Linked DNA regions of Homo sapiens. The protein of the gene in region 2 interacts with the protein of the main gene of each other region in a biochemical or structural test. Each region holds a gene or a part of one and is shown on either strand. Other genes may lie near its edges. The genes, in order: EVI5, RAB11A and GDI2.

Region 1 (3,654 bases), on a different chromosome or scaffold from region 2:
TATCTCCGAAGATTAGCACCAGTATTTTTTAAAGCTGCCAAGATAATTCCAGTGTGTAGCCAAGATTGAAATAATTGATCTGGGTGGATTGTTTGAGGCTGTCTCCACTGTATTTATCTTTCCTTTTGTCCCAGTCATATTTTCCAGAGAGTATCTTCCAGTTTTCTGCTTGGAGAGTTGAGGTCTGGTTGTCAGTATCTGGGAACTCAGGAAAAGAGGGTTGGGTAAGGAGCCAAAGAACATTTAGTATATTGGGCTCACACAATCTGTCTCTGTTAGGATGCCTATGTCTTCCACCTTGTATGGTTTACCCTCTTGAGAAGAGAAATCTGTCACCTGCCACATTGAGGGTGGGGCCACTCAGCAGCTTGGAAGAAATCTGGGATTCTAACTGTTCAGCATTCACTTGCTCCTTTCTTTTAGTCCCCCTTCCACTCTTTGTTCTGGCAGTTCCTGAGCCTTTTGAGGAATCTATGGCATAAACCGGTTTGTTCTTAGTTGTCAGCATTGCTGGCTTAGAATTTGGCCATCTTTGGCGGGGTGCAGTGGCTCACCCCTGTAATCCCAGCCCTTTGGGAGGCTGAGGCAGGCAGATCATGAGGTCAAGAGATCGAGACCATCCTGGCCAACATGGTGAAACCCCGTCTCTACTAAAAATACAAAAATTAGCTGTGCGTGGTGGCGTGCGCCTGTAGTCCCAGCTACTCAGGAGGCTGAGGCAGGAGGATTGCTTGAACCCAGGAGGTGGAGGTAGCAGTGAGCTGAGATTGCGCCACTGCACCTCCAGCCTGGCGACAGAGTGACACTCCGTCACAAAAAAAAAAAAAAAAAGATTTTGGCATCTTTGACTAGGTCAGTTATCCAGCTGCTTTCCAGCTTCCAAAATTTTGTTGCTATTGTCTCATTCTCCCTGTCATAATGGCTTGTGTCCTAAAAACAGAACAAACAACAATAACACAACTTTCTTTATCCTTGTTTTAGTAACGTTTTGGGAGGAAGCAAAATTAGATGTGTGTGTGTTCAATCTGCCATCTCACCTTGGAAGTCCACTGTCTGCTTTCCATTATACAGAAACTTGTTGCCACCTGTCCTCCATTGTTGTCTCCTCCTTATGGGGTTATACCTTTTAAATTTCTTCATAGTTGTCTGAAAAGAGTGTCAGGAGGTAGAGGACCTAAATATTGGTCAAGATATCATTTCTTTAGGAGTCTCAAAATTCTTTTTAGAAGTACTCGTTGTCCCAGGATCTTATAATCTCAAGATTGGAAGTGATTTTGAAGATAATCCGGTTTAACGAGCTATTTGATACCTTCTCTAAAGGAATTGTCCAGCCTAAAATGTGAGAAACTTGTGGTAGGAGGAGATGAGTGCCTGGAGAAATGGATTGGGCTGTAGATCTCTGCAAGGGGTCTGGAAATCCATGTGTACATTAAATGTTGCATGAATAATAGTTCTTGCATATTTGTAATATATAATAAAATTTATTAAAAAGTCATAATGGGCCGGGCGTGGTGGTGGCTCACGCCTGTAATCCCAGCACTTTGGGAGTCTGAGGCAGCTGGATCACCTGAGGTCAGGAGTTTAAGACCAGCCTGGCCAACATAGTGAAACCCCATCTCTACTAAAAATACAAAAAATTGGCTGGGTGCAGTGGTTCACACCTGTAATCCCAGCACTTTGGGAGGCCAAGGCGGGTGGATCACGAGGTCAGGAGATTGAGACCATCTTGGCTAACATGGTGAAACCCCGTCTCTACTAAAAATACAAAAAATTAGCCAGGCGTGGTGGCGGGCGTCTGTAGTCCCAGCTACTCGGGAGGCTGAGGCAGGAGAATGGCGTGAACCCGGGAGGCGGAGCTTGCAGTGAGCTGAGATCTTGCCACTGCACTCCAGCCTGGGCGACGAGCGAGACTCTGTCTCAAAAAAAAAAAAAAAAAAGTTAGCTGGCTATGGTGGTGTGCACCTGTAGTCCCAGCTACTTGGTAGGCTGAGGCAGGAGAATCACTTGAACATGAGAGGCAGAGGCTGCAGTGAGTCGAGATCATACCACTGCACTCCAGCTTGGGTGACAGTGAGTGAAACTCCATCTCAAAAAAAAAAAAAAAAGTCATGATGGTGTTATCATTTCATTTAGTAATGCTTAAATCCAATCATGGGGAGAGGTAGTACTCAGAATTTTTTATTTTGAAAAAAGCTTCTAGACTAGAAAAAGTTATGAGCTATTACTAAAGATTAATAAAGTTGTGGAGATTTTAGTGTATAGTTAACATAAAGTGAATGATAAAACCACCCATTAAAGTCTCTATTTTAAATATCTCTAATAGCTTTGTTATTCTTTGACATTCTATATTTTTATTTTCTTTAAAACACTAAGTCAGTAGCTTCCCAAATGTTGCTCTTTGAGTTAGAATTTTTACCATGAAGTTCATGATGAAATAGAAATGTTATCAATGTTTATACAATTTATTCACCTTTAAATTATATCCATCCTTTTTCTGTGTTAAAATGCCCTTTTTCTTATGAAGTTGTGATTCTAGATAGTAGATAGATTTTTTCCTTCTAATATTTGGCAAAAAATAAAAACCTGCGAGCTCTACATATTGCTCTTCAAATTAATTTTTTTTTTTTTTTTTTGAGATGGAGTCTTGCTCTGTCGCCCAGGCTGGAGTGCAGTGGCGCAATTTTGGCTCACTGCAACCTCCGCCTCCCGGGTTCACGCCATTCTCCTGCCTCAGCCTCCCAAGTAGCTGGGACTACAGGCGCCCACCACCACGCCTGGCTAATTTTTGATATTTTTAGTAGAATCAGGGTTTCACCGTGTTAGCCAGGATGGTCTTGATCTCCTGACCTCGTGATCCACCTGCCTCGGCCTCCCAAAGTGCTGGGATTACAGGCGTGAGCCACCGTGCCCGGCCTCAAATTAATTTTTAACAAGTTTTATAAAATACAGAAGCCTGCTTCTCAACTGCACAAAATCCCCATTGGCCTTTTCTTTCTACCACAAGTTAGTAACAGTCAGTCATGTGTTGCTTAACAATGGGGATATGTTCTGAGAAATGAGTTGTTAGACAATTTCACTGTTGCATGAACATCGTAGAATACACTTAGACAAAGCTAGATAATAGAGCCTACTATACACACCTAGGCTATATGGTATAGCCTTTTGCTCCTAGGCTACAAACCTGTACAGTATGTTATTGTATGGAATACTGTAGGCAGTTGTAACACAGTGGTACTTGTGTATCTAAACAGCAAAGATACACCAAAAGTACTATATTATAATCTCATGAGACCACCCTCTTTTTTTTTTTTTTTGAAATGCAGTCTCGCTGTGTCTCGCAGGCTGGAGTGCAGTGGCGCTATCTCAGCTCACTGCAACTTCTGCCTCCTGGGTTCAAACTATTCTCCTGCCTGAGCCTCCCAGTAGCTGGGATTATAGGCACACACCACTACACATGGCTAATTTCTACATTTTTATTAGAGATGGAGTTTCACCACGTTGGCCAGGTTGGTCTTGAACTCCTGACCTCAAATGATCCACCTGCCTCAGTCTCCCAAAGTGCTGGGATTACAGGCGTGAGCCACTATGCTCAGGCAGGGACTACCCTCTTATATGTGGTATCCATTGACTGAAATGTTCTTATGCGGTGCATGA
Region 2 (3,654 bases):
CCCAGTCTCTTTAGTAAGGAATGGTCTTACTCCTTGGCCTTATTTTTGTATGTTTGATTTTCTAGTCCTGATGTCTAAATCAATTAGCTAGTTTAGATAAGAAGAAGTCTTAGTAGTCAAAAGTAGGAACGAATGTAATGTTTCCTGAAATGCTGATACCAATTTTTACAAAGGAAAAAATATCTAGCTCAGATTCTATAAACGTGTGAACTCATTTTGAACTTTAAATTCAGATAGAAAATGTTTTAAAACAACTTAACTGCCTGTTTCTCCATTGTTTTTGAAATTCTTAAGCGTAATACCACTTTGAGTGAAAAAGAATCTCCATGTATCTAGTTAGTAAATAAACTGCTGCCTATAGAAATCACAGGAAGCAAATTCATCTAATCAAGACCTATTTTCAAAAAAATCATGGAGTCATAAGTGAAAGTATATGCCCTCCTTGCTTTGTTGTATTTTATTTTATTTATTTTTTTAAGACAGAGTCTCAGTGTGTCGCCCAGGCTGGAGTGCAGTGACACAATCTCGGCCCACTGCAACCTCTGCTTCCCGGGTTCAAGCTATTCTCATGCCTCAGGCCCACAAGTAGTTGGGATTACATGCGCCCACCACCACACCTGGCTAATTTTTGTATTTTTATAGAGATGGGGTTTTCACCATGTTGGCCAGGCTAGTCTCGAACTCTTGGCGTCAAGCAATCCGCCCACCTTGGCCTTCCAAAATGCTGGGATTACAGGTGTGAGCCACCACACCCGGCACTTGCTTTGGTTTTGACTCACAGTATGTCAGAATTATTAGTTTCCTAATACCCCCTGTTTATCTGTAGTGGCTTGGGTTTTTTTGGCAGAGGGGTCTCTAACTTTGAACCAATCTGATAAATGCAACTATTAAAGGTCATTTTAGTTTCTGTGATCTGTATGGTGATGTTTATAAACCCTATGCCTCATATGTTAAATGTTTTTCATTTTGCCTAGGTCTCAGTCCTGAGGTCACACCCAGTCTTTGATGAAACGAAGTATATTCATTTTGTCCTTCCCTACCCACTAACAGCCTTTGTTGTTTTCATTTCTGATACATTACATTTTAATATCATAAATTATTCATTTAGTTTAGGATTTATCTTTGAAGTTGTTATCTTCTAAAGTAGTAAGATTGGCATAGCATTGACGGTAATTAATGCCTGTCATCAATGCCAAGGGCATCTGTGATTAAAACTGCATGTTTAAGACAGGGTACCGTATCTGTGCTAAGCAGATGATATGTGGAAGTCATGCAGGTAGAAACAGGTTGAAAAGAATAAATCGGTTTTATTGATTGGTAACTGGTCAAGAACATGCTGTTCAACCCCCTACCCCCATTCCTTTTTAAAAGTCATATACCTTATTTTTCTTGCTTTATTTACTCTGAAGCCAAACTTCATTCTGTTGAAAGCATAGTGGTGTTCTGAATATGTTTGCCTCATTCATCTGACATTGAATTCTTTGTCTTTCCAGTTGTCCTTATTGGAGATTCTGGTGTTGGAAAGAGTAATCTCCTGTCTCGATTTACTCGAAATGAGTTTAATCTGGAAAGCAAGAGCACCATTGGAGTAGAGTTTGCAACAAGAAGCATCCAGGTTGATGGAAAAACAATAAAGGCACAGATATGGGACACAGCAGGGCAAGAGCGATATCGAGCTATAACATCAGCGTAAGTCTCATGGTTTTTAAGTTCTGTGAAATGGGTTGCCATCGAGTGAATTAGCTGACTTTTGGTATTGGAAAAAGAACTGTTGTTTTTTTCTTTTAAGAATTCTAGTATTAGGAATCCTTAGAAATTTATTTATAAGTATGTTTTTAAAACTCATGATCCATATTTTGAGTTCTTCCTGGTGTTTGCTTCCATCTTGTGGTTTTCTGATACTAAATATGTTTCTGTTTTCAGATATTATCGTGGAGCTGTAGGTGCCTTATTGGTTTATGACATTGCTAAACATCTCACATATGAAAATGTAGAGCGATGGCTGAAAGAACTGAGAGATCATGCTGATAGTAACATTGTTATCATGCTTGTGGGCAATAAGAGTGATCTACGTCATCTCAGGGCAGTTCCTACAGATGAAGCAAGAGCTTTTGCAGGTTAGTGATAGGAATTCCATGATATTTCTTACCATTGTGTCTTGTGGTTTTGATACCTTCCAATGAGAGTAATAGGTTATAATAGTTTCAGAGAGGTAAACATGAATGCTTAGCAAGAATTGTTTTGAAAGTTTGTGATGACTGTATAGCTTTTTTGCTTTGAGTCATTAAAACACTAATATTTTGCTGCCAAAAAATGAATATAAACATTGTATATTCTGTCTCTTTTTCTGTTATGTTTCTGTGTTTACAAAGGCTGCTGTACGTGAGCTCTATGTGAGTGAAAGGCAGAGGCTCAGGGAGTGTCAGGGACCAACAGGGATGCAGCTGCTTAGGAGCTGTAACTTTTTGGCTTCATAAAGAATTCACGTGTCTCTTGCCCCTGTTCTGGTAGGGACAGCATGCCAGAAGACAACATTGTGCATTGTGGCTAGTGAAAGTCTTGCGGCCGGGCGTGGTGGCTCATGCCTGTAATCCCAGCACTTTGGGAGGCTGAGGTGAGTGGATCATGAGGTCAGGAGATTGAGACCATCTTGGCTAACATGGTGAAACCCCGTCTCTACTAAAAATACAAAAAACCGGGCGCGGTGGCGGGCGCCTGTAGTCCCAGCTACTCGGGAGGCTGAGGCAGGAGAATGGCGTGAACCCGGGAGCAGAGCTTGCAGTGAGCCGAGATAGCGCCACTGCAGTCCGGCCTGGGCGAAAGAGCGAGACTCCGTCCCAAAAAAACAAAACAAAACAAACAAAAAAAGAGAGAAAGTCTTGCCTTTGCACTAATGCTTATGCTATGAATAACTTTCTGTAACAGTTTTTTAAATTTCCCATGCAAGAATAGCTTTATTGTAAATAATATGGCTACAACATACGGAATACTATAGCCAATGTAGTTGATGGAGAGGATAGCAAGAGATGGAAATAACTGGGCACTTGATACATTTTTACCACATTTTAAGTGGTGTCATTCGTCACTAGTGAGTAGTACTTAGATATAACAAGTATTTATTTTAATTAAGGAGCCAATTGACAATTTCTCACTTTTTTTTTTTTTTTTTTTGGGAGCCAGGATCTCACTCTGTGACCCATTCTGGAGTGGAGTGGCACAGTCAAGGCTCACTGCAGCCTCGACCTCCTGGGCTCTAGTGATCTTCCACCTCAGCCTCCTAAGTAGCTGAGACTGCTGGTGTGTGTCACCACGCTCAGCTAATTTTTAGTATTCTTTATATAGAGAGAGCAAAACCTCTCTCCAGTGTTTTGCCATGTTGCCCAGGCTGGTCTTGAACTCCTGGGCTCAAGCAATCCGCCTGCCTTGGCCTGCCAAAGTCCTGGGATTACAGGAGTGAGCCACCATGCCCAGCTCTCTTGCTATTATTTTTAATCTATTAAAGTGTAAATATTAAAGTGTAAGTAGGGTCGGGCATGGTGGCTCATGCCTGTAATCTCAGCATTTTGGGAGATGGAGGCAGGAGAAACTCTTGAGGCCAGGAGTTCAAGACCAGGCTGGGCAACCTAGTGAGACCTGCATCTCTACTTATATAAA
Region 3 (3,654 bases), on a different chromosome or scaffold from region 2:
ATTGTTTGAAAAACGTCGCTTCAGGAAATTCCTAGTGTATGTTGCCAACTTCGATGAAAAAGATCCAAGAACTTTTGAAGGCATTGATCCTAAGAAGACCACAATGCGAGATGTGTATAAGAAATTTGATTTGGGTCAAGACGTTATAGATTTTACTGGTCATGCTCTTGCACTTTACAGAACTGATGAGTAAGTATTTTGGTTTTTAGATTTGTATTTTTCTTGAAATTCTCACTAAATTTCCCAAGTCTTCCAAGTGGAAATTCTAACAAAACAAATACTTAGCCATATTGCACTATGAATGAAGAGGTTCTAGTTGAAATTAGTGTTGGGACCTTTTAAGTGATTTAAATATAAAGGTAGTGGGCCAGGTGTGGTGGCTCACGCCTGTGATCCCAGCACTTTGGGAGGCCAAGTTGGGTGGATCATTTGAGGTCAGGAGTTCAAGACCAGCCTGGCCAACATGGTGAAACCCCCTCTCTACTAAAAATGCAAAAATTAGTTGGGCGGTAGTGGTGCGTCCCTGTAATTCCAGCCACTTGGGAGGCTGAGGCAGAAGAATCACTTGAGCCTGGGAGGTGGAAGTTGTGGGGAGCCGAGATTGCACCACTGCACTCCAGTCTGGGCGACAGAGTGAGACCCTGTCTCAAAAAACAAAAAAACAAAAAAGAAGATAGCGGATTGAAATCGCTTCAAAAAAAATTATAAATTGAACACCATGAATGAAAACTAAAGCCCTTTCCTAATACTCATTTCCTTTCTTCCAGTTACTTAGATCAACCGTGTTATGAAACCATTAATAGAATTAAACTTTACAGTGAATCTTTGGCAAGATATGGCAAAAGCCCATACCTTTATCCACTCTATGGCCTTGGAGAACTGCCCCAAGGATTTGCAAGGTAAGAGCCTGTGTTTAAAACCTCAGTGATCCAAAACCTCATCTTCAACATAATGTGTATATGAGATATAGTTTAAATAATGAGATGAGATCAGTCTATGAGTAATAAGATGCTTTTTATTTTTATTGAAATAAAATTAACATATAATGATATGCATGGATCTTCAGTTAAAAAAAATCCAGTTTTATACAACTGTAGCTGATGTGCTCTTGTAAGTGCCAACTCCTGGCTGGAGGCCAGCCAATACAAAACCAGCGCACTTAACAAAAATACAACCAAGGACCTTCACAGAATCTACTTCACACCCCTGTTACCTCCACCAGAGTAAGTGCTGGTATCCACGCCTGAGAGACCTGGAGACAGATCACATCACAGGACTCTTTGCAGACACTCTCCAGTACCAGCTTAGAGCCTGATTATCTCCACTGGGCGGCTAGATCAAGAAGAGAAATAACAATCACTGCAGTTTGGCTCTCAGGAAGCCCCATCCCTAGGGGAAAGGGGAGAGCACCACATCAAGGGAGCATCCCTGTGGGACAAAAGAATCTGAACAGCAGCCCTTGAGTTCCAGATCTTCCCTCTGACATAGTCTATCCAGATGAGAAGGAACTGGAAAAACAACTGGGGTAATATGACAAAACAGGGTTCTTTGACACTCTGAAAAGGTCACACTAGCTTACCAGCAATGGATCTAAACCAAGACAAAAATCTCTGAATTGCCAGAAAAAGAATTCACAAGGTCATTATTACGCCAATCAAGGAGGCACGAGAGAAAGGTGAAGTCCAACTTAGCAAAACAAAAAAAGTGATACAGGATATGAATGGAAAAATTTCCAGGAAAATAGCATAAATAAATAATCACAACTTCTGAAAATCAAGGGACACACTTAGAGACATGCAAAATGCACTGGAAAGTCTCAGCAATAGAATTGAATAAGTAGAAGAAAGAAATTTCAGAGTTCGAAGACAAGGCTTTTGAATTAGCCCAATCTGACAAAGACAAAAAAGAATTTAAAAAAATGAACGCAGCCTCCAATAAGTTTGTTAAACAACCAAGCCTAAGAATAATTGGTGTTCCCAAGGAAGAAGAAGAATCTAAAAGTTTGGAAAACAAATTTGAGGGATTAATTGAGGAAAACTTCCCCGGCCTTGCTAGAGATCTAGACATCCAAATACAAGAAGCTTAAAGAACACCTGGGAAATTCATCACAAAAAGATCATCACCTAGGCACATAGTCATCAGGTTAACTAAAGTCAAGATGAAGGAAAGAATCTTAAGAGCTGTGAGTCAAAAGCCTCAGGTAACCTATAAAGGAAAACCTATCAGATTAACAGATTTCTCAGCAGAAACTCTAAAAGCTAGAAGGGATTGGGATCCTATCTTGAGCCTCCTTAAGTTATCAGCCAGTAATTTTGTATCCAGTGAAACAGAGCTTCATAAATGAAGGAAAGTAGTCTTTTTCACACAAACAAGTGCTGAGAGAATTTGCCACTACCAAGCCAGCACTACAAGAACTGCTAAAAGGAGCTCCAAATCTTGAAACAAATTCTCAAAATACCAAAATTGTATCTCCTTAAAGCATAAATCACACAGGACCTATAAAACAATAACACAATGAAGAAAAAAAACAAGGTGTTCAGGCAAACAAATAGCACGATGAATAGAATAGTACCTCAAATCTCAATACTAATGTTGAATGTAAATGGCCTACATGCTCCACTTTAAAGATACAGAATAGCAGAATGGATAAGAACTCATCAACCAAGTATCTGCTGTCTTCAAGAGATTCACCAGACACAAAAGGACTCAAATTTAAGGTAAAGGGGTGGAAAAATATATTTCATGTAAATGGACACCAGAAGCGAGCAGAAGTAGCTATTCTTATATTTTTTATTTTATAACTATATATATTTTAAAAAAAATCAGTTTGATAAATTTATAGACCTATCCCTGTCCTGGGTTTAACTAAAACCTGAGTGAAGGTATAGAACATTTTCCTCACCCCATAAAGTTCCCTTGTGTCACCTCATAATGAATACTGCCCCCCATCCCCAGCAACCACCTCTGTGATTTCTGTCACTATAGATTACTTTTGCTTGTTTTCAAAGTTCATGTAAAAGGAATAATACAATATGTTCTCATTTGTGTCTTTTTCATTTTTTGAGATTCATCCATATTGATGCATGTGTCAGTAATTCTTTTTTTTGGAGATGGAGTTCCACTCTTGTTGCCCAGGCTGGAGTGCTGTGGTGCAGTCTCAGCTCACTGCAACCTCCACCCCCTGGGTTCCAGTGATTCTCCTGCCTCAGCCTCCCAAGGAGCTGGGATTACAGGCATGCACCACCACATCCGGCTAATTTTTTATATTTAGTAGTGATGGGGTTTCACCATGTTGGTCAGTCTGGTCTTGAACTCCTGACCTCAAGTGATCCACCCACCTTGGCCTCCCAATGTGCTGGGATTACAGGTGTGAGCCATTGTGCCTGGCCAATTCTTTTTTTTTAATTGTTGAGTAGAATTCCTTTGTATGAATTATATGAGCATATAATTCTCCTTTTGGTGGACATCTAGTTAGTTTTCAGTTTTTGGCTATTATGAATGAAGGCACTGTGAAATTTTTATGTAAAACACTTTCTGTGGGGATATAGGTTTTCATTTCCTTTTGGGTAAATACTGGGAGTGAAATTGCTGACTAATGTGGCAGATAGAAGTCTGAATTCATAAGAAACTGTAAAACAGTGTTCTGGAGTGGTT

What was found.
Region 1: the proteins of RAB11A (region 2) and EVI5 form a complex in vitro, tested with the Homo sapiens proteins (one study listed by IntAct).
Region 3: the proteins of RAB11A (region 2) and GDI2 form a complex in vitro, tested with the Homo sapiens proteins (one study listed by BioGRID).

Annotation. Positions count from the first base shown.
Region 1 is NC_000001.11:92,775,087-92,778,740, reverse strand, and holds part of EVI5 (ecotropic viral integration site 5 protein homolog), read left to right. Parts: intron 1-3,654. UniProt on the Homo sapiens protein: Functions as a regulator of cell cycle progression by stabilizing the FBXO5 protein and promoting cyclin-A accumulation during interphase. May play a role in cytokinesis.
Region 2 is NC_000015.10:65,875,839-65,879,492, forward strand, and holds part of RAB11A (ras-related protein Rab-11A), read left to right. Parts: intron 1-1,493; coding exon 1,494-1,689; intron 1,690-1,923; coding exon 1,924-2,117; intron 2,118-3,654. UniProt on the Homo sapiens protein: The small GTPases Rab are key regulators of intracellular membrane trafficking, from the formation of transport vesicles to their fusion with membranes.
Region 3 is NC_000010.11:5,782,387-5,786,040, reverse strand, and holds part of GDI2 (rab GDP dissociation inhibitor beta), read left to right. Parts: coding exon 1-189; intron 190-767; coding exon 768-899; intron 900-3,654. UniProt on the Homo sapiens protein: GDP-dissociation inhibitor preventing the GDP to GTP exchange of most Rab proteins. By keeping these small GTPases in their inactive GDP-bound form regulates intracellular membrane trafficking.